4 linked regions of the Homo sapiens genome follow. The protein of the gene in region 4 interacts with the protein of the main gene of each other region in a biochemical or structural test. Each region holds a gene or a part of one and is shown on either strand. Other genes may lie near its edges. The genes, in order: MYOG, ELK1, ZIC3 and SRF.

The links.
Region 1: the proteins of SRF (region 4) and MYOG form a complex in vitro, tested with the Homo sapiens proteins (2 studies listed by BioGRID and IntAct).
Region 2: the proteins of SRF (region 4) and ELK1 form a complex in vitro, tested with the Homo sapiens proteins (2 studies listed by BioGRID).
Region 3: the proteins of SRF (region 4) and ZIC3 form a complex in vitro, tested with the Homo sapiens proteins (one study listed by BioGRID).

Annotation. Positions count from the first base shown.
Region 1 is NC_000001.11:203,082,619-203,090,294, reverse strand, and holds MYOG (myogenin), read left to right. Parts: upstream 1-4,282; 5' UTR 4,283-4,333; coding exon 4,334-4,804; intron 4,805-5,566; coding exon 5,567-5,648; intron 5,649-5,721; exon of another isoform or gene 5,722-5,923; intron 5,924-6,263; coding exon 6,264-6,385; 3' UTR 6,386-7,166; downstream 7,167-7,676. UniProt on the Homo sapiens protein: Acts as a transcriptional activator that promotes transcription of muscle-specific target genes and plays a role in muscle differentiation, cell cycle exit and muscle atrophy.
Region 2 is NC_000023.11:47,635,021-47,641,133, forward strand, and holds the end of ELK1 (ETS domain-containing protein Elk-1), read right to left. Parts: intron 4,319-6,113; coding exon 3,875-4,318; intron 3,163-3,874; coding exon 2,731-3,162; intron 2,095-2,730; coding exon 1,993-2,094; intron 1,908-1,992; coding exon 1,809-1,907; 3' UTR 501-1,808; downstream 1-500. UniProt on the Homo sapiens protein: Transcription factor that binds to purine-rich DNA sequences. Forms a ternary complex with SRF and the ETS and SRF motifs of the serum response element (SRE) on the promoter region of immediate early genes such as FOS and IER2.
Region 3 is NC_000023.11:137,561,364-137,569,237, forward strand, and holds the start of ZIC3 (zinc finger protein ZIC 3), read left to right. Parts: upstream 1-4,763; 5' UTR 4,764-5,328; coding exon 5,329-6,388; intron 6,389-7,538; coding exon 7,539-7,702; intron 7,703-7,874. UniProt on the Homo sapiens protein: Acts as a transcriptional activator. Required in the earliest stages in both axial midline development and left-right (LR) asymmetry specification. Binds to the minimal GLI-consensus sequence 5'-GGGTGGTC-3'.
Region 4 is NC_000006.12:43,173,797-43,181,366, reverse strand, and holds part of SRF (serum response factor), read right to left. Parts: intron 7,521-7,570; coding exon 7,254-7,520; intron 5,662-7,253; coding exon 5,400-5,661; intron 4,820-5,399; coding exon 4,700-4,819; intron 3,074-4,699; coding exon 2,882-3,073; intron 2,562-2,881; coding exon 2,485-2,561; intron 2,273-2,484; coding exon 2,177-2,272; 3' UTR 1-2,176. UniProt on the Homo sapiens protein: SRF is a transcription factor that binds to the serum response element (SRE), a short sequence of dyad symmetry located 300 bp to the 5' of the site of transcription initiation of some genes (such as FOS).

The sequences.
Region 1 (7,676 bases), on a different chromosome or scaffold from region 4:
CTTGCTCCTCTATTCCCAAGCACATGAGAATCCAGAATGGAAAAATTGCTTTGATTTTAGCCAAGCACCATGGCAGCCCAGGTCAGCCCACCTGCAAAATCAGCAGGGACTAGAAGATGCTGAAGGCCAGAGGGCTGTGACTGGGTGTGCAGCAGAAGGGGTAGTAAGGAGCAGGGAGCAGGTGAAGGGGATTTCTGAGCATTTTGAAATCCAGCCGCTACCATGCAAATGACATCAGCCCAGCGTGCAAATAGACAGAATCAAGTTGAAACAGTCAGGGTTGGGGAGCCAACAATGTGGCCCTGGAGCCCCAGTAGGGGATAAGGGCTTCCTCTGGAGGGCGCAGGACTGCTGGAGGAGGAGGCTACAGTCAGGGCAGGGGGCCCTGTGTGCCCAAGCCAGCAGGGATGGGGATTAGGGCCGGACGCCCTGCTGTCAGGTTGGAGCTGATGGATTGCCGCTGGTGGCGGAGCACAAAGGCTGTTCTGTGCTTGGCACCAATGTGTTCCCATCCATCAGAGGGCAGCTTGTGGGGGTGGAGGGGTGTACAAGGGGAGGAGGACCAAGCCTCTAGATGAGGCGTCTCCACAGCTCGGCTCTGAGAGAAGAACAAGATGGGTACAGGGCCAATCCCCCCCATCAGGGTATGGACAGGTCAAAGACACCTGGGTCACTCTATCAGCTCAGACCAAGAGGGTCTGTGCCCCACATCGGGCTTTGACGTGGTCCCCAAACCACTGTACTCAGACATACACAAACACACACAGAGACAGGGATTCACAGAAACCAGGCACACAAGGTCACCCTAACCTCCCGGCTCTGCCCTCATGTTTGGTCAGAGGCAAACATCATCCAGACACAAGGCCAAATGCATGCCCAACAGAGCTTCTGCAGGCAAGCGCCGAGTCTAGGCACTGCTCTTGCCCCAGGTCAGGTCCCAGCCAGGGAACTGACACAGAGTGGGTTCTCAGTAAATATGTGTTGAGCAGATGAAGGAGTGAATTAATAAATTCCTTCTCTGGATTACGTCAGCACTTTCTCTAGCCTGCTGTTTCTACCTTGGTTAGATGACTTTGTGTACTCATTCTCCTTACTCATCAGTGAACATGCTGAAGGCAGAGAGGGCATGTCTTAGTAACCCCAGCACCTGGCACAAGGTGCTGAATGCACAGTACTTGATAGAAAAAAAAATGAATGAATGAATAAACACATTCGGGGTGGAGCCAGGTTTTCCCTCCTCCATTCCTGCTGCTGTGGTCCCCTGCAGGGCACACAGAAGTAGAAGAGAAGACAAAGCAAGAAAAGGGAATAACATTTACCAGGTGTATCCATGTGCCAAGTACCCTATCATTTAATACAGCCATTCCCCTATTGCTTGCATACTCGCCATCCTTTGCTAGCCTGAAACATGCACCCTCTCCCAGTCGAATCCATCCTCCTGCCTCTGAAGAGGTTGTTCAGACCTTCATCATCTCATTCCTGGATGACCATCACACTGTTCTGTGCGGTCTCCTTGCCTCAGCTCTCAAGTCCTTCCCTGCCCAGCTGGGCCTCCTCCCCTCTGTGCAAGTTTGTCTCAAATCACCCCCTTACCTGAACCCCAAGCTCCATACAAACAGCCTACCCAACGTCCCCTTCCCCTGCTCCCCTCTCCTCATCTGAATCCTACCAGTTCTCCAAGAGCTGGCCCAGCATGCTCCCCAAGCCTTCTGCAGAGCACCAGTCTTCAGCAGTTTTGGCTTCCCAAAAATTCCCAAAACGCTTTTGAAGAAACTACTGGTTTGCAATTGATTAAAGCCCCCATGTTTGCTGTAGAATCAACATAGCTCTCCCTTGTCTTGTAATCCAGCTTTCACATGTCAACCCATGCTCACCAACTAGACAGTAAGGTCTGGAAACCACCATAGAGCAAGCCAGCTCTGCCTCCATTTTAGAGGAAGAAGACACATTATTTAGAGGTAAGTCACACTGGATCCTGGAATAACAAAAGATGCAAATATGGGGGTTCCTATAGTGGCTTCAACATGACTTCTTTTCTCAGGGCTCATAGGACTGGAGGGTAAACTGAGGCTTTTTTTTTCTTTTTTGTTTGGCAGGGGATGTGTTAGAAATAGAGACTCTTCTTCAGCCCAGCTGGTCAGGGGAAAGCAAAGTTTAGAACCCACACAGTACCTATGCTGCTACTTTTTTTTTTTTTTTTTTTTTTTTTTTTTGAGGCAGAGTCTCGCTGTGTCACCCAGACTGGAGTACAGTGGTGCGAACTCGGCTCACTGCAACCTCCTCCTCCTGAGTTCAAGTAATTCCCTGCCTCAGCCTCCCAAGTAGCTGGGATTACAGTGCCCACCACCATGCCTGGCTAATTTTTGTATTTTTAGTAGAGACAGGGTTTCACCATCTTGGCCAGGCTGGTCTTGAACTCCTGACCTCGTGATCCACCCGCCTTGGCCTCCCAAAGTGCTAGGACTACAGGCATGAGCCACCACGCCCGGCCTATGCTGCTACTTTCTATCATGCTGGTAAGGCCAAGAACAGAATTAAGACCTCACTGCTCTCCCTCAACATGCTTAGGGTTCTTTTGTTGTCCAGCTATGTTCCCTCCTTCCCTCCATTTCCTGTCCCAAAAGGACATCAGAATTCTCCTGGCTCCCTGCTGTGAATAATGAGAGGAAGGAACACTGGTTCTTCACATGCCTCGCAGATCTCATGTTCCCTGTGAAGTCTCCCATGAGTCCCCAGCAGGGTTCCCCTTCCTCTTATTGTCCTTGCCACTGGCTTGAACTTGTCAGTTTGATCTGTCGTAGGATAAGGAGCAGGACATTAGTCTATGGGGAGGAAAAAACTGGGAACAAAGGATAAAAGATAGAGGGAGCAGATTGCAGCCCAAAGCTACACGTCAATGGAACGGGCTGTCTCCTGACGTGAGCAGAAGCTGAACAGTAGCCGCCTCGGAGGAGATTTGGGCATCAGGGGCTAGGTAGAAAGAGGTGATCACCGTTGTCTATCAGATGGTAAGTTCGAGGGCAGGGATCCTGTCTGGGGTGTCCCTATAATCCCCAGCCCTAAGACTGAGCCTTGTTCACTGCTAGTGTCTAAGGTCTGCCCACTGCATTGGAAGGAATTTGTCCTCTCAGACCCTGAGGCACCTACTGAGAGGTGACCATGGCCTGAGAGGCCTGAAGATTAAATAGTCCCTGCTCTACCTGACATTTGAGACCTGCATGATACGTGTAAAATTGATGGCTCAGACAGTAAGAGGCAGAACAACCAAGCCCGGTGGCCAAGGAGAGAGGAGATTTAAACTGAGTTTGAAGGGCTCTGTTTTTTCTACTTTTTCACCCCCGTCCACATTAATGAGCCAGGAAAATTCTGGTGTTGGAAAAAGAGTTGAGGAGGTAACATAGAAGGACAGATCAATGGTCCGGAGTGAGACAGGGAGGAGACAGGGAGCTTAGGACATCTTGACCTTGCCGCTCTGGGGAAGGTGGCAACGTGTAGGCTGTAAATTCTAATCTCTGCTCTGACCACGGCTGCTGTATTAAAGAGGAAATTTCTCTTTACCCCTGCCAAGAAAACCAAAACCCAAATAATTTCTCTTGCCTCAATTTACCCCCCCAGATGAGACCTAAGAGAACATACAGCTCAAAGCTGCTTGGGAACCCCAAAAGTGGAATCTGTTAGCTGCTCTGAGTCTTGATCCTTCTTATCCCTGGATACTGAGTGCCCATGAATGCCCAGAATCTGAAGCAGTCCCATTCTTTCCGGAGGGAAGTCTTTAAAAGAGTCTCATCGACTGATGTAGTGTGGTTAAGGTGCTGTCAGGAAGCAAGGAGATGGATAAGTTGGCTCTTAAGGCCCCTTCCAGCCTAAGCCTACCCTTCCTTGTTCCCTCCTCCCCCTATACCCACCAGCTTCTTCGGGACTGCAAGGAGACAGCAGGCAGGCCGCCCAGCTAGGAGTAATTGAAAGGAGCAGATGAGAGGGGAATGTGTCCTCCCCCAACGCCCCTGCCCCACAGGGGCTGCTGAGAAATGAAAACTAATCAAATTACACCCGACGGCCTCCCGACCCGTGCACAGGAGCCCGCCTGGGCCAGGGGCAGGCTGGCAGGGTGGGGTGGGGGCCATGCGGGAGAAAGAAGGGGAATCACATCTAATCCACTGTAAACGCCTTGATGTGCAGCAACAGCTTAGAGGGGGCTCAGGTTTCTGTGGCGTTGGCTATATTTATCTCTGGTTCCATGCCAGCGGGGAGGGTTTAAATGGCACCCAGCAGTTGGCGTGAGGGGCTGCTGGAGCTTGGGGGCTGGTGGCAGGAACAAGCCTTTTCCGACCCCATGGAGCTGTATGAGACATCCCCCTACTTCTACCAGGAACCCCGCTTCTATGATGGGGAAAACTACCTGCCTGTCCACCTCCAGGGCTTCGAACCACCAGGCTACGAGCGGACGGAGCTCACCCTGAGCCCCGAGGCCCCAGGGCCCCTTGAGGACAAGGGGCTGGGGACCCCCGAGCACTGTCCAGGCCAGTGCCTGCCGTGGGCGTGTAAGGTGTGTAAGAGGAAGTCGGTGTCCGTGGACCGGCGGCGGGCGGCCACACTGAGGGAGAAGCGCAGGCTCAAGAAGGTGAATGAGGCCTTCGAGGCCCTGAAGAGAAGCACCCTGCTCAACCCCAACCAGCGGCTGCCCAAGGTGGAGATCCTGCGCAGTGCCATCCAGTACATCGAGCGCCTCCAGGCCCTGCTCAGCTCCCTCAACCAGGAGGAGCGTGACCTCCGCTACCGGGGCGGGGGCGGGCCCCAGCCAGGGGTAAGTGGCCATCCCATCCCCCTGCCCCAAGGGGACGGGGCCAGAGGGAGGCACCTGGACAGCCTCAAGACCCCAAGAGGGGCTCAGAGGGTTGGTGCAGGTGCCAGACAGGGTCGAGGGGCTGCAGGAGCCCTTCCCTGGTCAGAGCTGGGCTATCCAGCTGACCTCCTGTGTCCTGTGTTCTTTCCAGACAAGATAAAGGCAGTGGGGAGGAAGTGCAGAAGGGGTTGGGGTGGGGAACATAGGACTGAAGAAAGATCAGGAGCAAGGCCACAGTCAGCCCAGGTGAGGGTGAGGATTAATCCCAGCGCCTGAGTCAGAGCCTAAAAGGCCAGGCCAAGTTCACCAGAGAAGACTGCTTTGCCCCCATCCTGGGTGTGGCTGAGCAGAGAGAAAACCCACTCAGTCTCATTGGAACTCCAGCAGGCCTGCACAGAGCGACCTTCACTGGGCCACAAAATCTGTCTCCATCACCCTTATCGCCAGAGTCAGGAGAACCAGGGACCCCTTTAAGCTGGTGTCCTGTGAGAGCAGAACCACCACCCAGGATGGAAGCCAGGAAGGCCTGGAAGCAGGGCCTCTGGGGTGTGAGAGGAGCTAGTTACAAAGATTCTGGGGTTGGGGATGGCCTGGGCTGGAAGGCCACAGCCTGTGGCCCACCCTCCAACCCCACCACAGGTACTTCTGCCCACTGGGACTAGGCAGAGAGAGACATCAAAGAATGGCTGTGCCCCGACCTTGGGCCTTCGCCCTGTCTTGCAGGTGCCCAGCGAATGCAGCTCTCACAGCGCCTCCTGCAGTCCAGAGTGGGGCAGTGCACTGGAGTTCAGCGCCAACCCAGGGGGTAAGTAAGGCCTGACTGGTAACCTTGGCTCCAATCCCTCAGTCCCTCCCTGGGCCAGGTTCTCCCCTCTTACCTTATTCCTTGCTCCGGTCCTCTTCCCTTGGGTCTCTCTAGGGACCTGCTGACTCCAAGGCCCAAAGGGTGGGCTGGGAGGTTCTGTGTGCCCCTGCAGTCTTGACCAGCAAAGGAGTGATAGTAGCTCCTGCAGCTCCCCAGCTGATGCCTGGTGGTTGACCTTCTCCACAGAGAGGACAATGTCCCTGCCCCAGGGGTCCCTGTGAAGTGCTGAGTCAGTGCTGCAAAACTGGGCCGAGCAAAGGGCAGGTCCAGTCTCTGGGGAGCTCCATCCTGCTCCAACTTGAGTGGCTGCTTCCAAACCCTACCTACTAGGGGAGTTCAGAAAAGAGGCGCATACACACACACACACACACACACACACACACACACACACTCACAGAGCATGGGGAAAGGCAGGGACTAGGGAGTAGAACTCCGGAGCTTTGTCATTCATCTGTCCTGGAAAACCTCTGTCACCCCAAGGGTCCCATCCTCTATTCTGGGCCTCAAGAACCCCCACTGCTCACCCAGGTACCACCTTCCCACCTCCCCTTACAGATCATCTGCTCACGGCTGACCCTACAGATGCCCACAACCTGCACTCCCTCACCTCCATCGTGGACAGCATCACAGTGGAAGATGTGTCTGTGGCCTTCCCAGATGAAACCATGCCCAACTGAGATTGTCTTCCAAGCCGGGCATCCTTGCGAGCCCCCCAAGCTGGCCACAGATGCCACTACTTCTGTAGCAGGGGCCTCCTAAGCCAGGCTGCCCTGATGCTAGGAAGCCAGCTCTGGGGTGCCATAGGCCAGACTATCCCCTTCCTCATCCATGTAAGGTTAACCCACCCCCCAGCAAGGGACTGGACGCCCTCATTCAGCTGCCTCCTTAGAGGAGAGGGCATCCCCTTTCCAGGGAGGTAAAGCAGGGGACCAGAGCGCCCCCTCGTGTATGCCCCAGCTCAGGGGGCAAACTCAGGAGCTTCCTTTTTATCATAACGCGGCCTCTAATTCCACCCCCCAAGTGAAACGGTTTGAGAGACGCAGTGCCCTGACCTGGACAAGCTGTGCACGTCTCCTGTTCTGGTCTCTTCCCGATGCCAGTGGCTGGGCTGGGCCTGCCCTGAATTGAGAGAGAAGAAGGGGAGAGGAACAGCCCTCTGTTCCCAAGTCCCTGGGGGGCCAAACTTTTGCAGTGAATATTGGGAACCTTCCAGTGGTTTTATGTTTTGTTTTGTTTCGTGTGTTGTTTGTAAAGCTGCCATCCGACCAAGGTCTCCTGTGCTGAAGTTGCCGGGGACAGGCAGGGAAAAGGGGTTGGGGCCTCTTGGGGGTGATTTCTTTTGTTAACAAAGCATTGTGTGGTTTTGCCATTGTTTTGTATTTTTTTTTTTTTTTTTTTTTTTTGCTAACTTATTTGGATTTCCTTTTTTAAAAAATGAATAAAGACTGGTTGCCAGAAGAGTGTCGGTGATGATGCAGAGGGAGGGAAATGACTGACAGCCCTGCCCCTTCCCACTGAGCAGTCCAGACACACCCTAGTGGGTGGGGCTCCACAGCGCTAAGGGCCTCATCTTGCTGGTGGTCACTAGGCACTGGGGACCCCTGCTCTTTTCACCATGATAAAGGAAATCGAGCATGTCTGGACCTCAGTCTAGGTGGAGACCAGATTCCACAGACATCCTTGTGGGACACGGAGGACAACTGGCTATGACTATACTTCAAAGCCACTGCTCACAGGCTGCTGTGCTCTGTGTTATGTCCCAACAGGTCCGCTGGTTTCAGTTAACTGAGCACCTCGTAAGCCCAGTGCTCAGCCCACAGCCAAGGTGCAGAGCTAGAAGTTGTGGTTTCCCTTCCCTAGTCCCCACCTCTGCCCTGGTGTCACAATACCAGGAGCCCTGTAGAGAAGTGGGAGGTGAGGAAGGGGGATCAGACACTGTCATTTCCTTGCGGGCCAAATAGCATGGCC
Region 2 (6,113 bases), on a different chromosome or scaffold from region 4:
AGTGAGGTTTGTCACCTACACAATCTTTGCCACAATCCCTGACAACCTCTACTGTAGTTTCATGCCCACGTAGTCTCTCACATGTGGTTTTGGTCACCCAGTCTGTCTTGCTCGCCATCAAACAGTGACAGGGCTGCAGTCCCCGTTCCCTTCTCGTAGACATTATTTTGTGCATACCATCACAGGTTCTTGTACAGTACCTTGACTATTCATCCAGGCTCAGTTATTTTCTGAAACACAGCCACAATTTCCCACATAGACACACCATCAAAAGTCTGTGGTCACAACTTCTGCACACTCTCACACACAATCACAGCTTTCCACGTCTCTGACACACACATGGTTACCGATATGCAGTCCCTACTATTGTTTCTCACACACGCCATCACACCGTTTCTCTCACAATCGACCTCTGCCTCACACCCTCCACACACAGTCATGCGTGTCACGCTCAGCTAGTCCTGACAACATCAGAGAAAAAGTGCCAGCAGCCTCCAGCATCACTTTGAAAAATATATATTTACAGGAACAATTCCCCATTCTCTGGGACTCTTTAGAAAAAAAAAAGGTCCATTTTGGGGAAGTAAAACAAACAGTGGAGACGAGTGTAGCACTGTCCCCCAAATCACCAACCCCCAGGTCCCAAGGCCTGGGCTGGGCCAGCGCTAACAGGTGAGCCCAGGAGTCTTTTGAACCCACTCTCTCTTGCCTAGAATAGAGACAGGACAGGCTTTATGTCCCCCATTCCTCCCTCCCAACTCCAGGGACATTGAAAGGGTCCTTTGTACCCGCCCGCAGGAAATTGGGGGGCTGGGAGGGAGGGAACTGAAAATTCATGTTTGGTATCAAAAATAAACACTTGGAGTGGGGGAGGCGGCAGGAAGATTCCCCCCCAAATCCCTTCCTTCCCACCCACCCCACCAAATATAGGAAGAGATGACTCCCTCTCCCCTATTGAAAAGCCCCATTTAAAAATAGATTATACTATCAAAATGGCAGCGGGGGAGAGACAGGGAGACCTGGAGTACTGGCTGGAGGGGCCCCCCAGACGGGGACCACCCCCCAAAAAAACCCTCCATTGGGAGGAAACAGGCAGGACCCCAGGGAGGTTGGCAGACAAAGGAATGGCTTCTCAGGGGGAAGAACAAAAGGGACATTCCTCCCTGGCCAAAAAGTTGGTTGAAAAGGATAAGCTGTCTGAGAGAAAGGTTGGGGAGGTGGAAATTTCTATTCCAAGGGTGTGATTCTTCCTTGGCCAAGACTCCCAACCCATTAAATGGTACAAATTCTTCCTGGACCCCTGAGTATGGCCAGGAATAATAAAACAAAACAAACTAACTCTTCTACTCACATCCAAAAACGCAGACAGGGCTCCCTCATCTCCCCAAGGGCAGGCTGAGAAATAAAGAAAGAAAGGTCGTTCTCAAGCCAGACCTCGATTGTCTTGTCTTGGGGAAAAAAGTGGGGAGGTGGGGGAGATGTCCTAACCACCCTAAAAGGTTAGGTCAGGCTCCTCCCAGTGGCCTTCAAAAAATAAATAAATAAACCGCCCCTACCATTGAAGTAGGAGACGTGTAAGGGCGGCCACTGGGGGACTGACAGAAAACAGAGAAGTTGTGGAAGCTGTGTGTTTTCTGTGGAGGAGATAATGAGAGTTACTCTTGGGAGTAATTCTTCCCAAGGATCCCCACCCCACCACAATCAGAGCATGAGTCTTTCAGTTGAACTATGTTTCTCCTTGAGATGGCTGGCTGGAGAGAGCATGGATGGAGTGACCCCAGAAGGGGTGGTGGTGGTGGTGGTAGTAGTCATGGCTTCTGGGGCCCTGGGGAGAGCACCACGGGGGTCGAGAGGCCATCCACGCTGATAGAAGGGATGTGCACCTGGGCGCTGCCACTGGATGGAAACTGGGGGCAAAAAGAGGGAGAGGTCACAGATGGGGGCCATTCTTGGGTCTCTCACCCTGTCCAAAACGGGGAAAGAGGATCCTACCTGGAAGGAGAGCTTGGCCGGGCTACGGGGCGCAATGGGACTCAGGGTGCTCCAGAAGTGAATGCTAGGAGGCAGCGAGCTGGGTGTCAGCAGCACCGGGGTCTGTGGGGAGAGGGTGGTCGGAGCTCAAGTGAGTAGAAAGTAGATGTGGGATGCTGGAAGGGACTTGGTCCCGGCCCCACCACAGATTTCCCACTCACACTCCCAGGGTCACTCCCCAAAGTGCACACACCTAGATGGTAACCATGGAGGCCATGCCTATGATCTCTCAAACTCTGCAGACACCCCCCACTCCCCACTCCCGAGAGCCCACCCTCAGTTGCTGAGACCTCATTGGTCAAGACCACCCACAAGACCCTATCCAAATGCTGCTCTCAAACCTCTCAAGTCACCATCCCAACAGCTCAGGGTCAACTTCCAACTCATGTCCCACCCATGAAACCCCATATGCACATCCCAGACCAAAAAGCCCTGCTCAGGTTCCTTAAGCCACACCCCAACCTAGAAACAGTCCCACAGAAAGACCCTCGGTCCCACCCACAAAAGTCCCCAGCCCTGCCCTTCACTAATCAAACCCCATCCCTCCAGCCAGCATCAGCCCAGTCAATCACACTCAAAGGCTCCACCCTCTTCAGGAACAACCACACTCACCCTCCTCTGATTCCTGTCAGTCACCCGCCACATGCCAATCCCATTGGTGCTGGCGCCCACACACCCCACCCCTCCGCAGGCACTCACCAATGTATGCGTAGGAAGCAGGGATGGGGTCAGCGCCGGCCCCGGAGCCTGGAGGCCGGAGCCACTTCCCGATCCTGGGGTCCGTTCGGGTCCCGGCCCACCTAGCAGGCTCGGGCTGAGTGGAAGCTCTAGGTCCCGGGGCTTCCGGCCCTTCTGCGGCTGGGAGATCTCAGGGCTGGAAGCCGCATGGCCGCCCGCCTGCCCTGCGGTGTCCATAACAACCGCGGGCAGCCGGGCTGGCACGCCCTCCTGTGGAGGGACTTCTGGCTCGGCCTTGGTGGTTTCTGGCACAAACCCTCTCTCCCCCGCAACTTCCAACTCTTCCTTGGGCCCTTCTACTTTCACTTCTGGGGGCAAAGCCCGGCCCAAACCCGGCTCCACATTAAGCTCTTCCGATTTCAGGTTTGGGGCCTCGGGCGGGGTCAGGATGACCTGGTAGAGGAGCAGGCACAAAGAGGGTGTGTAAGGATTGTTGGGACCACAGGATTCTCCTGTGGGCCACCCAGTGATTTCCCCGGGAAGGTGGCACTTGGTACTCAGGGCATGACTGCACATCAGAGCAAGTCCTCCAACAGGACATAGGACTTCGTCAAGGAAGTAGGGCTTCCTCTGGGGCAGGTCCTCCTATGGGACAGGGGACTTGGGGTGAGACAACCTGAAGCGGGTAGGAATCTGAGGGATACCATCCTCATTCATTAAAACAGTGGTTCTCAAAAATTTACCTTCCTCTGGACCAGCAATATCTGCCTCATTTGGTAACAAGTTAAAAATGCAAATTATTGGGCCCCTCCCCAGCCCCACAAATTCAGAAACTCTGGGGGTGTGCCTGGCAATCTGTGGTTTAACAAGACCTACAGGTGATTCTGATGAGCACTAGAGTGCGAGAACCAGTGCATTAAACATATTCCAGGCACCTACATGTTCGGCAGCTACTAACTGTAGCACAGTATTCTCCCCTTTCTGTCTCAGGATTTGTGTAGCTCTCTGCCCCACCCCTCCTTCTAAGAGGATGTCTTCCTTCCACCATTATCTCCTTTAACGGGACAGCTATGTCTCTTCTACCAGCCTCCCTCGTCATCCGGGGATTACACATCCCTCCTCTTTACTGCCTCCTCTTACTGAATTTCTATATTCCAGTCCTTACCTGCAGAGGCAAGCCGGCCTCTTCAGCCTCCAGACAGGCCTCCAAGGGGCTTGGACTGGTGCTCCTGCTCCCCGAGGGGGGCGCTGCTGCCCCTGCAGGAGCTGCACTGGGGAGCACCACAGCAGGCCGAGGATGAGGGGGTGGCTGCGGCTGCAGAGACTGGATGGTGAAGGTGGAATAGAGGCCCGAGCGCATGTACTCGTTCCGGCTGCTGCGTGCCAAACCGCCTGGGCCTGCCATTCCTGCACCCTTGGGTGTGCCTGGCTTTCCAGAGACAGTGTCCCCTGGGGCGGCATGTATAGCAGCAGGGGCCACATTTGGCATGGTGGAGGTAACAGACACCTCTGGCTGGGGCGGGCAGTCCTCAGTGGAGCACCCTGCGACCTCAGGGTAGGACACAAACTTGTAGACGAACTTCTGGCCGCTCACCTTGCGGATGATGTTCTAGGAAGGGAGGAGAGGAACAGAGGGCCTTAGAGGAAAGGGGCAGGCTGGAGGCAGGGTGTCAGGGGGGAGGAGGGGGGTGGAGTGGCATTTCTCTTCTCCTAGTGGCTTTCTTCCCACTTGCTCCTCTCCGGCTTTCCCGTCCCTCCTCTGTAAGTTTCTCTCTCAGCCCATTTCCTCTCCCATTGGTTTCTACCTCTTTCCTCTCCCGCCAGATTCCCCTTATCTATATCCCTCCCCAGTTCCTCCCCTTTCTCTCTTCTCTCCACAATAATTTTTTCTTTAAGCCCCTTCCCATCCACCCCTTTCCAAGCCTCCCTTTGTCACTCTCCAGGTCCGTCTATCTGATTTTCCCACTCCCTCCACACTGTAGCTCCTCTTCACAATGGGGCCCATGAAGGGCAGTAGGTGTGGGAGCAGGTCTTCTTCCTGGCTCCAAGAACCAGAGGTTCACAGGGCCAGGCCTTGTGGGTGACTGTCAGGACACAGTTTTGGAGACTAGCAAATGCAATAAGACAAGAAAATGAAGTAACTGATATAAATGTTGGAAGAAAGTAAATTAATGTAGATGGATGGGGTGATGAATTATTAATACAGAGGATTATTTGAAGCTAATGATACAGAAGTGGAACAGGGCAAGGTCACTGCAGAGGAGAGGGTGAGGAGGCCTCATTATTAATACCACTGTGGAGGTTGAAGCTAAAATGGTAAGAAAATGAAGTAACTAACAGCAATTAGACAAGAATATTAAAAATACTGGTATAAATATTGGGAGGGGGCCTATATCAAGGCTGGCTTTGCTGGGTCACAGAGCATGTTTGGGGTTTTTCAGGTCTGGTGGGTCTCAGAGATGACCTAGTGTTCCCAGAGGGCAGAGTGAGATAGCCTCATTACTAATATTGTTCTGGAGGGTTGAGCTCAAGGAATAAAATATGAAAATGGAATAAATGCCATAAACTATGAAGGGTGTGCAGCATATGACCAGGGCAGTTCTGGGAGTGTGGAGGCACTAGGGCATTCTGTGGAAGTCTTAGTGCTGGTCAGATATGTCACAGGGTGGGCCTGTGTTTCTCGGAAGAGGAATAAAAAGGGATATTCATGAATATTGTTTGGGAAATTTCAGTAGAAGGATTAAGAAAATGAAATAACTGGTATAAATATTGGGGGGAGGAGAAACCCAGCAGTGGCCTGGGGGTCTGAGAGGGCAGGATGGGGGAAATTTTAAATTTTAGCTGTAGGAATAAGATAATGAAAACAATTGATATAAATATTGGGGTAGACCAGTGCTCCTCTGGGAATTTAAGAAGACAGTGTGTGGAAGTTGGCATTAAACATGTTGTTTCAGAGGTTTTAGCTTAAGGAATAAGAGAAGAAAATAATTAGTTAAAAATGTTGGGAGTCCCAGAGGACGAAGTAAGCAAAAGTTGGTATAATACTGTCAGGGAGGTTTTGATTCTAGGAATATGAAATATTCTGGAATAAGAGAAGACTATGAAATAACTAGGGAAGCCCAGCACTGGTCCAGGGGTTTCAGAGGACAGAATGAGGACCAGCCATTATTAACCGTGTTTTCAAGATGTTGGCTATAGGAATACGGCAGGAAAATGAAACGTTGTGCATGGCAGGGCAGCATCACTTTGGGGATCTCAGAGTGGGAGTAGAAAGAGTCAGTATTAATAATGCAGTGGTGGTTTTCGCCAAAGCAGTAAGACAAGAAAGTAGGTGAGATAGTGTTTAGGGGCCCAATACTGGTCTTAGGGTACCAATGGATGGGTTAAAAACTGATAAATTTTAA
Region 3 (7,874 bases), on a different chromosome or scaffold from region 4:
GCAGCTGGGGGCTAACACCTAGTCACCCCCAGAGCGGTAAAGGTATTCCATGGCAGCAGAACCTAGCAGGCCACAGCTCGTCATAAGCCTTTCACTCAGATTTGCCTGAGGACCACTGCCTACCACTTGGGTGGGGTGGTTCACTGCATTTTCTATATTTCAGGGACTCCCTTTATAATTCCAAACTGGATTCTGATAGTTCTAGTTCAAGTCCCTGCCTGCCTCCTTCAAGTTCAGCCCTATTTACTTCAGCCTATGTCTCTGAAGTTCAAGTATATATATCTGTCTGCACAGCCCTGATTGACAAGTACAATGAAAATGTCTCATTCCTGTCTGGTTTGCATTTCATTACATTGGGTAACAATATGCCTTGTATTTCAGAGGACAAAGGCAAAAAAAAAAGGGGGGGGGTTAATTAACAATATCTGTTTATTCTCGATTGAATTTTAAAGGTATTTAGGGCTTATAAAATATGTGTCAAATGATAGGACCATAGTGAAAATTCTGATGTGGCCAATAAAATCTGGAGCTGTGTGATTTTACGCTCACCAACCTGCAGACACACTTGGTTGGCAAGTGTGTCAGCATGTCCTGGAGATCGATAGTTCAGCTTGGCCCCTGATGCCAATTAAGTGCTTTATCTTAGCATAAAAATAAAGAGAAGTTAAAAATGCATTCTTTTCCCAGCTTTCTTCCCCCTTCATTTTTTATTGCCACTTGCAGTTTTTCTTTTAAAAAGATCTGGGACTCTGAAGAGAGGGTGGGGATTTATGTAAAGAAAGTGTCATTTACCAGGAAAAAAGGCGAATAATGGTGAGTTTCAAGGACATGTTGCAATGAGAAACACTTTGTGCTCCACTAGGGAGAGACAGGGGCACCAAATTCAGCGTCCTGGAATAATTCCCTTCCTGGATTCAAAGATTCATTTATTGAAATAAATCAGGAAGCCTTGGCAGAACGGAAATCCGCTTGCTGGGTTTAAAGGGCCTTTAAAATGTTGCGAGTGTTAGATTGCAAGTCTTTTCTAAATACAAAACAGAAGAAAAGACCGCAGCGTTTCCCTTGAACTTAAAGAAAATTACTAGGTCACCGAATCAGGATAATTTCATGTCCACCACATAAAATGTGTTTAGAAAGAAATGCTGCATGATAACACAATGTGCTGTGTATGTTCTGTTTTTCGGAGGTTCGACGGAAGAGAAAAGTGCTGTGGAGTTGGGCTCTGGGTTGTAGGAAGAACCCGGTCCTACCCTACTGCCCCTCAGGACGTTCTGTTTCCCTACTGCTTCTTCAAGATGGATTCTAAAAATCGGGCTCAAAAGCTTTGCTGGTTTAGAAGTGATCAGTTTTTCTGATTTTATTTACTGCTTTAGATTTGGGCATAAAAATAAATCTTTTTCCTATTTACCGTTTGAACTCAGTGTGAGGGAAAGGATCCCATTATATTTCCTATCCATACAAACATGTGGATATTTAGACCCGACCACATACAACTTGGGGACACATAAAAGAGATTTATTGGTTAATTTACGTTGCCTACTACACATGTAAACCCTAGTAAGCCAAAGCTGCTGAGGGAGCCTCAGCTATAGAACCACGACCCCTGGGTTCGAGTTGTCCTCCCTGACTAGAGCTGTGACTCCTGTCTCCACCTGAAAAACGAAAACACGAGAGTTGTCTCCATCCCCTCACCTCTGCCTGTGTGTAGGAAAAACTTTTCTCCTCTTAGCTTTCCCTCTTCTGCCACCACTCTGTTCTCAGACTCAGCTCCCCAAAGCGCCCTGTTCCCCGAAGTTGTTCCCAGAGTCTCCTCTTGAAAATCAAGTTTGGGGAGGAGAGAAGCTCTAAGTCATAAGAAAAACTTCGCGATTTTTCCCCCCCAACAGCAGTGATTTGCTTTGTTGGGGGTGGGGACTTTGTTTTCATGTGCAGTAACTAGCTTTATCTGGAGGGATTTTGCTTTCTACCCTCTTTTAAGGGTCAGGGGTCCCCCTCCCCAAATAAGGAAACTCCCACTCAAACCAACTGAAACCGACTTAGAAATGGCCTGCCTCTGACCTGCTGTTCACAAAGCCCCCAGCCTCGTCCTTTTGCGCGCATCTGGGACCCCTGCGTCCCACAGAACAACGACACCCCCTCAGAACCGCACTCTCAGGATGGGCCCGGCTGTCCCGTGAAGGGCTCCATTGCCCGGGATTTTGGCCTGGCTGAATCGCCTCAGGTCTGCCCCCTTAACAAGCATCCACCCCCCCGGCCCCCACCTCCCCACTTCTCGGTTGATGATCTAATTGAATTATGCCTTTTTGTTCCAGGGACTACAGAGCACGTGCTGGAGGCAATTAATTATCGGAATGTGGCCGTATCAAAACGGACACTGGGCACCGGGTAGGTCAGCGGCGGCAACTTCCCCCTGCCTTGAGCTCAAGACCCCTTCCCAAATAGGGGCATGATGAGCTCCCTCGGCTGCCCCCCTTCTGAGCCCTTCACCCAGTTGCAATCGCGCAAGGCCCTCGATTCTCGGGGTACCTGGCGGGACTCCCCGGAAACTCTCGCATCAGCGCTGGCCCGGCCAGAGCTCGACAGCCGCCCCTTCCCGGTCCCCTAGTCTCGAGAACCGCTGTCCGCGGGACCAGCTCAGTGAGGAAATCCAAACTTTTTCAAACCAACTACTTAGCCAAGGGCGGTTGGGGTTGGTGGGAGGTGAAGAGAGGTAGAGGGAAGAGAGGAAATAAAGGAGAAAGTGAAAAGAAAGGTGGGGCGGGGGGGGGGGGGGGAAGAAAGGCAATCCTCCTTTTTTGTAAACCTGACTCCAGGGGATTCATTTGCATGATTTAAGCATATTTGTTCTCTGAACACACCAGCGCCCCCCTACCCCCCCAAAGAAACCCTCTGCTGAGAGGCACTGAAACCATTCTTGGAGAGCCTATGTTCGGCAGACGCAATAATTTAAGTCAGCAGTGAACTCACCTTCCAACCTGGGGAGAGAGCTCTGGATGTGGAGAGAGAATTGGGGCGAGTTTGATGGGAGGGGGTGAATACGGTAAGATGTGCTACCGGTAGGGTGTTCTCCCAGCAAACTGGCTAAGAAAGAAGGTGAAGTGTTGGCTGGGCCAGGCAGACTGGGGAGCAGGAAGTGAAAGGCTGCAGTTATAAAGCGCTGCTTAAGGCGGTCTCTCCTGGCGCCTCTGAACTTGATCAGATGTTCTATTTCCTACAGAGAGATGGCGGCCAGGCTGTGAGGCTGCCTCAAGGCGCAGACTTTGGGGCTTGGCCCAGCTAGGGATGTGACAATCACAGCCATCTTTCTCTCTGCCTTTTCTTTCCACTCTCTTCTGCATTCTTTGCAAATGCCTTGCAGGACACAAAAATGAGTGAATTTATAGCCTTGTCTGAACCTGGTCATTATGTCAGAAAGACCTTGCAACAGACAGAAGGCGAGAGGACTTTCACACACACCCCTGGAAGTAAATCCTTAAGGGGTAAGCAGTCCCTGAGGTCACTACATGCTTTACCTTCTCCGGGTAGGAGTAGAAGAGAGTAAAGCCTTGGCTGTTCAGAGGAAAGAAAATTCCATGTCACAGTCCCCATTCAGCATCAGCAACCCCCAACACGACTTTTGCATTTGAAAATGTTGAGAATTCAAAGCTGATTAGCCTAGTGATTTGGAAACCACCCTGATACTGTGTGTGTCTAGTGTGTTTATTATGTGTTTAGTGTGTTGTGTGCATGTTTTGCGTACACTGGCTAAAAGTGTTCTTTGCATGTTTTGTATTTGTGGGTATGCTCGCTGTTATGTGTATTTGCTCTGTTGTGTTTAGTTGTGTTTCTGTGTTTGCTGTGTTGTGCGTAGTTTATGTTACTGTGTTGTATGTGCTTACTTTGTTGTGTTGTGTGCGTATTTCATATGTCGTGTTTGTTTCCTGTGGTGCGCTTGTGTTTACTGTGTTGTGTGCTTGTTTCCTACTGTGTGCTTGGGTTTACTGCGTTGTATATGTTTGCTGTGTCGTGCCCGGTGTGTAATTCGGGAAGTGGGCAGCGGCGAGTACGGCCGCTGCTCACAAACTAAAGGGTCAACGCTTGGCGCAGACGGAAGTAACGGAGATCAGCTCTAATTGTAATCGTTTCTTCTCCTTTGGGTCTCGGACAGCTGCCGACAGGTTGGGGGCACAAACGGCGAACTATCCCGGCCTGGGTCCCGGCCTCGAGGCCATCAGAACTCGCAGTGATTGGAGGTGGACGCAGCGGCTGGACCGGGAGCGCGAAACTGCTGCGCTCTCCCCAGGATCTGCGCCCTGCAGCTACAGAGGGGACATGTTCTCAAGGTGGTGAGGCAGCGGGGGCCCAAGCAGGACTGGACGTTGAGCGCCGCGTCTCCTCCATCGGCGCAGCAGTGGGACCGATCCTCGCGGGGCAAAGAGCCCGCGAGGGGTGGGGGAAAGCCCGCGAGAGTCCCGGCGGCGTCCCGCCGTTTGCCGGCTGGAGCCTGGCCCCAGTTCCCCGCAGCCACTCAAGCCCGGTGGAGCCCACTCGCGGCCGCCCGGCAGCCGCCGCCTCACCTGCCAGGCACCCGGCGGCTGCCCAATCAGCGGGGGTCGCTCGGCCGCGGCTGCCATGTTCTCCGCTCCGCGCTGCCAATCAGCCTCGCGGCGGCCAATGGGCAGTCCGGCCGGAGGTCAGGTGACCGCGGGCCAGCTGGCTCCCCATTGGCGCGCGCCTCGCGGCCTCCCGCTCGGTTTATGTGCGAGGAGTGAGTGATTGACTTTATCAGTCCAAGGACATTACTCTGGAGGCGAAGAGGCTGGGACTCGCGCGGCGAGCGGCAAGCGGCGAGTAACGAGCCTGCCTACTGCCCGCTGCCCGCCTGCCCGGCCGCTAGCCGGCTCCGCCACTTGGCGCAGCCCAGCCCGGAGGCCGGTACCCAGGGAGCCTCCTGGCCCCGCGGTTCTGTGCACTCGGGGAGAGGAGGGGTGCCCGGGACAGGATTGGCAAACTCCGCCCTCCACTTACTATTTTGCTTATTTTTCTTTGTGCGCGCCTGTTAGTTTGTTAAACCAGATCTAGTCCGAGTCTTTTCTCCTCCCTTCTCCTCCCTCCTCCTCCCCCCGCCAACACCCCCTCCCTGCTCTTTCTTCCCCTCCTCCCTCCTATCCCTCTGCAGGAGACTCTTGCAGTGACGGAAAGTTGCAGCCCCTGGTAGCGCCTTGGGGGTCTCCCCGCAGTGTCCAACCGCCGCCACCCCTTTCCGACTACGGCACTTCGGAGATCTCCTCCTTCGCCGGTACCCTCTCTCACTTCGGCCGGATCGCCTGTGCCCAGAACGTCCCACCCATGACGATGCTCCTGGACGGAGGCCCGCAGTTCCCTGGGCTGGGAGTGGGCAGCTTCGGCGCGCCGCGCCACCACGAGATGCCCAACCGTGAGCCGGCAGGCATGGGGCTGAATCCCTTCGGGGACTCAACCCACGCCGCCGCCGCCGCCGCCGCCGCCGCTGCCTTCAAGCTGAGCCCTGCCGCGGCGCACGATCTATCTTCAGGCCAGAGCTCGGCTTTCACGCCGCAGGGTTCGGGCTACGCCAACGCCCTGGGCCACCATCACCACCACCATCACCATCATCACCACACCAGCCAGGTGCCCAGCTACGGTGGCGCTGCCTCTGCCGCCTTCAACTCAACGCGCGAGTTTCTGTTCCGCCAGCGCAGCTCCGGGCTCAGTGAGGCGGCCTCGGGTGGCGGGCAGCACGGGCTCTTCGCCGGCTCGGCGAGCAGCCTGCATGCTCCAGCTGGCATCCCCGAGCCCCCTAGCTACTTGCTGTTTCCCGGGCTGCATGAGCAGGGCGCTGGGCACCCGTCGCCCACAGGGCACGTGGACAACAACCAGGTCCACCTGGGGCTGCGTGGGGAGCTGTTCGGCCGTGCTGACCCATACCGCCCAGTGGCCAGCCCGCGCACGGACCCCTACGCGGCCGGCGCTCAGTTTCCTAACTACAGCCCCATGAACATGAACATGGGAGTGAACGTGGCGGCCCACCACGGGCCCGGCGCCTTCTTCCGTTATATGCGGCAGCCTATCAAGCAGGAGCTGTCGTGCAAGTGGATCGACGAGGCTCAGCTGAGCCGGCCCAAGAAGAGCTGCGACCGGACCTTCAGCACCATGCATGAGCTGGTGACACATGTCACCATGGAGCATGTGGGGGGCCCGGAGCAGAACAACCACGTCTGCTACTGGGAGGAGTGCCCCCGGGAGGGCAAGTCTTTCAAGGCGAAGTACAAACTGGTCAACCACATCCGAGTGCACACGGGCGAGAAGCCCTTCCCATGCCCCTTCCCGGGCTGCGGGAAGATCTTTGCCCGTTCTGAGAACCTCAAGATCCACAAGAGGACCCACACAGGTAAGGGAAAAAAGCAGGCGGGCGTGGGTTCCACTGGCGATACCCCGTCACGCAGCGGACTTAGAGCGCGAGGGAGAGAGGTGGCGGCCAGGGAAAGGGGCGACGCCCCGCAACGGCCGCTCGAAAAAGAAGCGCTGTCAGTGACCATCCACCCCTAGCCCTCCCCGTCCCGTGGCGCCTTTGCCGAGTTCTAACTTCCCGGGCAGACTGCTCTGCGGTCTCAGGAACTAATTGGGACCTTCTCGCGCCCAGGAACAAACTGGCGCCGCCTCTTTTTGTCTCCCTTTCTGGGTTACCGTGAAGGGACTCCGAATGTGTTGAGAGCATATTGCTTACAAGCGACTTAGCTCTCGGCACACATTCGTGGAAGGCAACCATACAAATGCTAATGAAAACTAACTTTCGGTTACTTCCGCTTTTTTTTACACTTGATTGGCACATCTCCTAATTAAATGACTGATACTTTTGTCAAACTATTTTTATTTGGAGTTCCAGGTTCAATTCAGTCCTCCGGGAGGAAAGCTAAAGCAGTTTCGTGGTTTGTTCAGAACATCTTGTAAAACTGTCTGGAGCCCCCTGGATCGATCGATCTATCTATCTATCTATCTATCTATCTATCTATCTATCTATCTATATTTTTTTCCTCAAACATTAACTACGACTACCCAGGCTTTTTAATATCGGGCTTAGCCAAACCGCTGCATTTGAAAGAGGCAAATAAAAAGGTACAAAGAGGCTGAACGGGATTGTCCTGTCCGGGGCCCATTGTCCCGCCGGGCTCGGTTACATTGCTGAGGTGGTGGCGGAACGTGGCCGCGCATTGGGAGCCCTGGGTCGGGTAGGGTGGAAACACAACTTAGGGGAAACTTCGGAGGAGCCAGGGGCTTTCCCTCCTTGCAAGAACAAAGACATGGTCAGGTTTTGGGCCGGCCCCGCCCCACCCCCACCCCCACCCCGACCACCACTCCCAAACCCAGCGGGCTCAACCTACGCTCTTCATTTCTCTCCAGGGAAAATAGATGCAGCAGCAGCCCCCAGTCCGCGCTCCCTTTCCGGGAAGACCGCCGGGAGCTCAGTCTCCTGCTGCTTGCCTCTGAGAAACTCCGGCGCTGACCGTATTTTACCCCCCTTGGGTTTTTGCCTTTTGCAGGTGAGAAACCTTTCAAATGTGAATTTGAAGGCTGTGACAGACGCTTTGCCAACAGCAGCGACCGTAAGAAGCACATGCATGTGCATACCTCGGACAAGCCCTATATCTGCAAAGTGTGCGACAAGTCCTACACGCACCCGAGCTCCCTGCGCAAACACATGAAGGTAATTACCTCTTTATTAGCGGTCGGCGGTTTGTAAACACTCGGCCCGACGCCGGGCCGCGGAACGGAAGCGCCCGCGCTGCCAACCCTCTGTCTTCCACGTTAAATCCGATTTGCTCCAGCAGTGACACCTTGAACCCATTTTGGGGACCGGGCGGGGGTGGGGGTGAGGG
Region 4 (7,570 bases):
CACATTCAAGCACACACACTCACTCAGGCGCACACACCCACACACACATACCCCAGAGCCACCGAGGAAGGGAAACACCAAGGGTCGCTGCACATAAAAATATCACCTCAACTCATCCCTGACACACGCATGTCCTCCCAAGGCCACGCTCACACAACACACATTATAAGCACTTTGCCTGATTCACTCACTGGGTCTGTCTTTTGTGGGAAGGAGAGGAAGAATTCATCAAAGGTCTCCTCCCCATGGGTGGGGGAGTGGGGAGTGAGTGAGTGATGGTGGAGTGAAACAAGAGCAGAGAAAAGGGGCTGGGCAGTTACAGACCTGAGTCCCAAGCTCCCCTGCTCTCTGGCCCCTGATTTGCCATGCCCCAGCCTTGAAAGCCACCCATAAGCCCCAGCTATCTCCAGGAGAAAGCCCAGAAAGGTGACTTCCATCTTGGCACCCCAAACTGGGGCAAGACAGCAATGAGGGTTAGAGGTTAGGGGGTTCTCAAACATGTCGGCAAATCATCCCCTTGATAACTAGGCTGTGCATAAAATCTTCCCCCATCCCTTCACCTAATCACAGAAGCCAGCTTGTTCCTACTGAAGGCAGTCTTAGGGGTTAAGAAAATTTCACCCCACTGCTGCCCTGTTTCTGAAAAAGCTCCCCTTCTGGATATAGGTGGTGAAGGTAGGCTCTGACACAGGGTAAAAGACCCTCCCCCCTATGCTGGCCCACCCTCAAGGTCTACCCCAAAGGGGGAGGAGGGGGGTGGGGCATGGCCCCTGTACAAATTACATAAATACTGAGGTTACACTTAGAAAAATAAAGTCATTTTCTTCAAGGCTTTTTGTCTTAATTTAAAAAAGTTACAGTAGCTGCTCACTCCCTGGGAGAACTGCCCATTTCTGGCTCCCCTTTGGCTGCACTCAGCCCAAGAAGCTGCTCCCACTTCTTCTGACCCCCATTCCTGCCTCTCACCCCCTCCCAGACCCCACCCTGCTCACTGCAACTTGGGCCCCAGGCAGCTGCATGCCTGGGACAGCGCAAGGCTGCAATGCCCATGCGTGTGGCACAAATGAAGTCAGTTGCCTCTGCCTGACGCCCTCCCACCCCAACCCCGACATTTGGTCTCCCTCTTCCCTCTCCCTAGCAACAGCCCTAAAGGGCAAAAAGAGGCCCAGAGCTGTGGGTCACCCTCCCCACCCCGTTGGGGAATGGCCTGAGGGCCCCTCCCCCGGCTTTCTCCTGGAAACAACCCAGGACTGGGCAAACCCAGAATCTCCCCCACACACTGGTGGACCCCGAGCTCATGGGGTGGCTCTGTCCCCAGGGGCCCAGCCAGTTCTGGGGAGCCTGAGGGCTCCCCAGGGAAGGGGAGTTTGGGCAGGGAGGGGGACGAGAAAAACGCCATAAAAAAAAGTTAAATATTTTAAAAATATATATTTATAGATTTGTTTTCACTTCGTCTCCTCAAATAAAAAGTTCAAAATCAACTTTAAGTAAAGCAGCTGGGAGGAGAGGGGGGAAGACAAGGGGGAGAAGGGAACGCTGGTGGTTCCCTCCAACCCAGGAGCCCCTGGAGGTCCAAGGGGAGCGGCAAGGCAGGGCAGGCGGCCCCAGGAACCTGCCCAGTGCACAGGCCCAGCTACTCAGGAGCTGAAGGGGGAGAGGACAGCAGTGTGAGGAAGAAGCCCCCATCTCCCCAGCTGGCCCCCTGAGGGGCAGAGCCAGGGCTCTTTTGACCCAGCCTGTGACAGACACAGGGCTGACCTGGGGTCAGCAAGGAGGCTGGCAAGAGGGCCCCAACTGCTTCCTCAGAGGAGGACACGGTGCCCAGCCCCACAGAAGGCCTGTGTGTGGGGAGGTGGGGCACGGTCCCATTGGGTAAGCTAATACTCATGGCAAACATCGAGCCAAGCTGGCGAGGGGGTCCCAGGAAGGAGGACAGCCCCTCCAGCAACAGAAATGGGAGGTGGGGCGGGAAGAAGGGGAGGCTGAGGGAGGACGGGTGGAGGCAGGCAGGCCCATTTCTTTGGCTGGAGTGAGAGGGCTCAGTCCTGTGGCTGCCCGTTCCTCCTCCCCGCCTCCCTCCTGCGGCCCGTCAACGTGTGTGTAAAGAAAACGTGAAAAGGCAACAATAAATAAGTGGTGCCATCCCTTGGGCCATCTGTCCAGGGCGGCGGGCGGATCATTCACTCTTGGTGCTGTGGGCGGTGTCCAGGTTCACCACCTGTAGCTCGGTGAGGTTGCTGCTGCTCCCGGCCTGCTGCCCTATCACAGCCATCTGGAGGGAAGGGGATGTATGAGGAGGGGCAGGGACTGGCCAGCCAGTTCAGGCTCCCCTGGCTTCCCTGCCTGCCAACCACAGGCCTGAGCAGAAAAGCAGATGGGCTTCCAGGCTAGGGATTTTGGCTTTGATGAACTGGTAACAGGATCCCCTAAGGTCAAGACAAAGAAGTGGCTATCTGGGATGGGGTGAAAGATATCCCTACCTACCTGGTGGAGCTGAACTGCTGAAACAGGGATCTGCACTGTCCCAGATGATGCTGTCAGGAACACCTGGGGGACGCCACCTACATTGGAAAACCACAGGAGATACTCAAATTGTTTGTTGAAACTTCCAGATATTGGAGGAGTGGTGTCAAATGCACAAGTGACTGGGGCAGTCTCAGATGTAAGAGCCCAAGGGAAAGGGTGCCAGTGTGTCTGAGGGTGCATGCGGGTGTGAGTGTCCAAGTGGGGTGTCCAAATGTGTGTGTGAGCATCCAAGTCTGTGTTGTATTTGGGTAGAAATATTTGTAGGCATCAGTGCATATGTGTGTGTATGTGTGTGTGTGTGTGTGTATAAAGAAGGAAACGGTCCTCCTTTCCTTAGCCCTGCTCCTCTACTCACCTGGCTCCTGGACCTGGCTGTGTGACACCTGCATGGTGGATGGTGCCTGGGAGAAGGCATTCAGCACGGTGAGGCTGCCATCACCCAGGCCCGAGGTGGGGGCATACATCACCGCATGCGGGCTAGGGTACATCATGTGGCCACCCACAGTTGTGGGCACGGATGACGTCATGATGGTGGCGGGCAGCGTCACTGGCAAACACAGACATGTGTCAGCTCGGCACTGGTCCCCACTGATAACTCCCATTCCGTCCCTAGGAATTCCAGGCCCCCAGAGCCCTCTTGCCATTTCCCAGGTCAGAAGCTAGACACGACTATTCCTCAGCTCCATCATCAACTAAGAAAAGCCTATTTTTTCTTGAACACAACAGCATCAATCTTTAATTGTATCCTATCACATTGTACTATTTATTCAATTGTCTATCTACTGAATTCTCTAAGTCCTAAATCTTGGGAAAAACAAAGATTATGACTGACCTACTCTCAGAAAACTCAGATACTCCCCTTTTAGGAGCTCTAACATCTTATTTTTTATTTGTTCTCATTCTCCCTCCTTTTTTTTTTTTTTTTTGAGATGGAGTCTCACTCTGTCACCCAGGCTGGGGTGCAGTGGCGCGATCTTGGCTCACTGCAAGCTCCGCCTCCTGGGCTCATGCCATTCTCCTGCCTCAGCCTCCCGAGTAGCTGGGACTACAGATGCCTGCCATCAAGCCCGGCTAATTTTTTGAATTTTTAGTAGAGATGGAGTTTCACCGTGTTAGCCAGGATGATCTCAATCTCCTGACCTCGTGATCTGCCCCCCTCGGCCTCCCAAAGCGCTGGGATTACAGACGTGAGCCACCGCACCCGGCCTCTCTCTCCTTCTTAATGCACAGCTAACAAATTCATCTTTCAAACAAGCACTTCTCAAATGTTAACGTGCATTATATGGGAATCTTGTTAAAACACAGACTCTGGGCCGGGTGCGGTGGCTCAGGCCTGTAATCCCAGCACTTTGAGAGGCCGAGGTGGGCGGATCACGAGGTCAGGAGATCGAGACCATCCTGGCTAACAAGGTGAAACCCCGTCTCTACTAAAAATACAAAAAAATTAGCCAGGTGTGGTGGCGGGCACCTGTAGTCCCAGCTACTCGGGAGGCTGAGGCAGGAGAATAGCGTGAACCCGGGAGGCAGAGCTTGCAGTGAGCCGAGATGGTGCCACTGCACTCCAGCCTGGGCGACAGAGAGCGAGACTCCGTCTCAAAAAAAAAAAAAAAAACAGACTCCGATTCACTAGGTTTGGGGTGAGACTCAAGATTCTGTATTTCCAACAAGCTCCCAGGTAATGCTGGTGTTCCCAGTCCATAGGCCACACTTTGAGTAAAAAGGTTATAAATAATAAGAACTTAAAATTAACCTTACTTTGAGAGTATCTCATCATTTCTGAAATGTCTAGAGATACCTGAGGGTAACTGTGGCTACTCAAAACCTGTAAGACCCTCGCACAAAGAGAAAATTGCTCTCTAAGTCCTTCCTGATAATTAAGCAAATGTGTCTTTGAGCAAGTAACTTCTTATTTCTAGGCCTCAGGCTCCTCATCTGAATGAGGAGGTAGGTCAATGGTCCCCAATTTTCTTCTGGAATCCGCAGCCCACTGCAGGGCGGGATTCAAAACCCAGTCATCCTCACCTGACTTCCCCATAATTATTAGGCCCAAAGCCTCAATCTCCACTTTAAGAAATCCCCTGACTTTAGTTACAGGAGGGTTACTGTTGGGCACCTACTGCTAGGCCTCGTGGGGGAAGGCAGGGAGGGAGGGTGACAGGGCTGCGAGCTATACCTGTCCCGCTGGAGGAGGTCTGCGTGAGGTCTGTGCTGCTGTCACGGGAGGGAGACGCTTGCTGTGGGGCCTGGTGCACTTGAATGGCCTGCACTGGGACCTGCTGGGCCACTGCCCCACCTGCAAGACACAGAGTCTTATTTGTGCTCTGTCCCACCCAATTGCCACCTCCACCAAGTACCCATGGACACCCCAGTCCCAGGGTCTGGCACACTGGTCTCCAACTCCCATCACTATCTTTCCTGGAAGCCAAAGAGGCCCTTCAGGCCCAAGTATCCACTCTGGGGGCTTCCACGCTCTACTCTTGCCCATCCCTCCTCCTCCTGCCCTGGGCCTTGTCTCTCTTTTCTTCAGTTGACCCAAGAGCTGGCAATAACCCATCAAAGACATGATCTGCCTTCCAGTCAAGGCAGGAAGTGGTGAAACATCTACTGCCCTGTGGCAATGAGGGCACGGGGCTGGGGTAGCTAGACAGGGCCAGAATATATGGTTGAAACTTACTGACAAGGACAGCAGGGGTCTCAGTGGGCAGAGGTATGCCTGCCAACGGGATATAAGAGGCTTCGCTCAGGCTCTGGCCCCTATTCACCTTCCTTCTGAGCAGGGAAAGAGGTTCTCTTGGTGCCAGCCCTAAACACACTCTTAGCATGCTTGATTTGCCCCAGGAAGGACGAATCTCTCCCTGCCCCTCGTGACTCACCAGGCATGAGGGTGAAGCTGGTAGGCAGCTGCATAAGGCCCCCAGAGGAGACAGGGCCGCTGCCTGTACTCTTCAGCACAGTCCCATTGGCACTGCTGACAGCACTGGGGCTGACACTAGCAGACACTGGTGCCAGGTAGTTGGTGATGGGAAAGGAGGGGCCGCTGCTGACTTGCATGGTGGTAGAGGTGCTAGGTGCTGTTTGGATGGTGGAGGTTGTACCCGGCAGGTTGGTGACTGTGAACGCCGGCTTCAGTGTGTCCTATACCCAGAGTAAAGATGAAGCAATGAGCCCCTACCAGATCCTGCCTTTGCAGAAGCTTTGTGTGGACTGAGAACCCAGACTGAAACCAGTGAGCTTGGGTTCAAATCCCAACGCCACCATTTACCTGATGCCTGACTCTTAGGTAAGTTATTGATCTACTGAGCTACAGTTTTCTATCGGTAAAAGGAGGATAATACCTACCCCCTAGGTTGCTGTAAGGATTAAGTAGGTTAGCATATGTAAATCACTTAGAAAACACTACCTGGCACATAAAAAAACCAAAATAAATATTTGCTGCTCTTATGATAATTATTATCATTGTCATTATTATAATCCCCTGAGTTCTCTGCTCCAGCGGACTGTGGTAATCCCATTGGCTGGGGAGTCAGGACACCAAGGTCTGTTCCTAGCTCTGGTAATGACCATCTAAGTGACCCTGAAATAACCAGTCCCCTTTTCTGAACCTCGGTTTTCCTCTTCTATAAGCATGAGGGGGCTGGGCTACTACGTTTTCTTTCAAAGAGTTCTTCCAGCTCTAATTTGTCAGGCTTCTGAGATAGGAACTGAGTTTCTCAGGGAACTTAAGAGTTTGAGAGAGATCTTGAGAATCTGGCAATGACACACTATATGTCAAACACCCAAGATGTAAACTACCAAAAGAATGTACTCATCCAACAAAATTTCCTGGGAATAAATGAGCCCTACTGTTATAAAAGTTTAAAAATTATTACAGATGATATGCCACTAAGAGAGGAGGTAGCCTACAGCACTGACTCTCCCCTAAGGAAGACTTCGTTCTTAGAAGGGGAAGAAGGAAACTGAGAACCAAGCCACCAAGCCCAGACCCGAAATGAGTCAACCAGAGGCTCAAAGGCTGCGGGGTGGGTCAGCACGAGACGTTTGCAAAGCAGCTGGGCCCAAGACCCTTGATTGGCAGAGGCGTTGCTAAGGCAAACAGTGCCGCTTCCTCCCATTGGCCAGTCAGTTAAGTGCCACCCGGAAGGTGGAGCTCCCCAGACAGCAAGGGAGGAAGCCCCACCCCCTCTCCTTACCGGGAAAAGGAAGGGGGAGGAGTAACAGCGCAGGCATCCCTAGCAGCAGGCAAATGCGCTCCCTAACTGCCCAGGCCCCCAACACCCTGAAAGGGCAGCGGCTGGCTTGTAAGGTAGTCCCCGGCCCAGTCAACCAGCCCGCCTGCCAAGAGTGCTGGATTCCCAGGACCCCGGGACCGGAGTGCTCCCTTTCTACTCCCTGGCGACCCAGCCCGGAGGGCCGGGCTAAACTACACCCCCGCCCCTAGCGGGGAGACAGCTGGCGGGAGGAATGCAAAGGCCCTGCCAGGCAGGCGGGCTGCGGGCGGGAGGCCGGCGTGGAGCCCAAGCCGGCCTTATATGGGCACGGAGGCCGCCCGCTTATCTAGGGGGGCGGTCTTCTATCAGGAAAGTGAGGATGGACACCTGTCCCCTAGGACGAGGGTCGTTAATCCGGCTCCACTCCACATCGGTGGGCACCTATCCACCTGTCCTGGGCCAGAAAGGGAGAGGGACCCCACTCCCTTCCCTCCTCTCACATAGGCAACCCAAACACACCTTGGTCTCCCCACTGCTGTCAGACTCCGACACCTGGTAGGTGAGATCTGTCTCTTCAAAGCCAGTGGCACTCATTCTCTGGTCTGTTGTGGGGTCTGAACGGGGTGGAGAGTCTGGCGAGTTGAGGCAGGTCTGAATCAGTGCCTTGCCGGTCTCACTGGTGATCATGGGCTGCAGTTTTCGGGTGGCAAAGGTATACACATGGCCTGTCTCACTGGCCACCAGCAACAGCACCTGTGTCCCTGTCAGCGTGGACAGCTCATAGGCCTGAGGGGTGAGGAGGGAGATGGGCAGGTCAGCAAACTTTTTATCTCTAC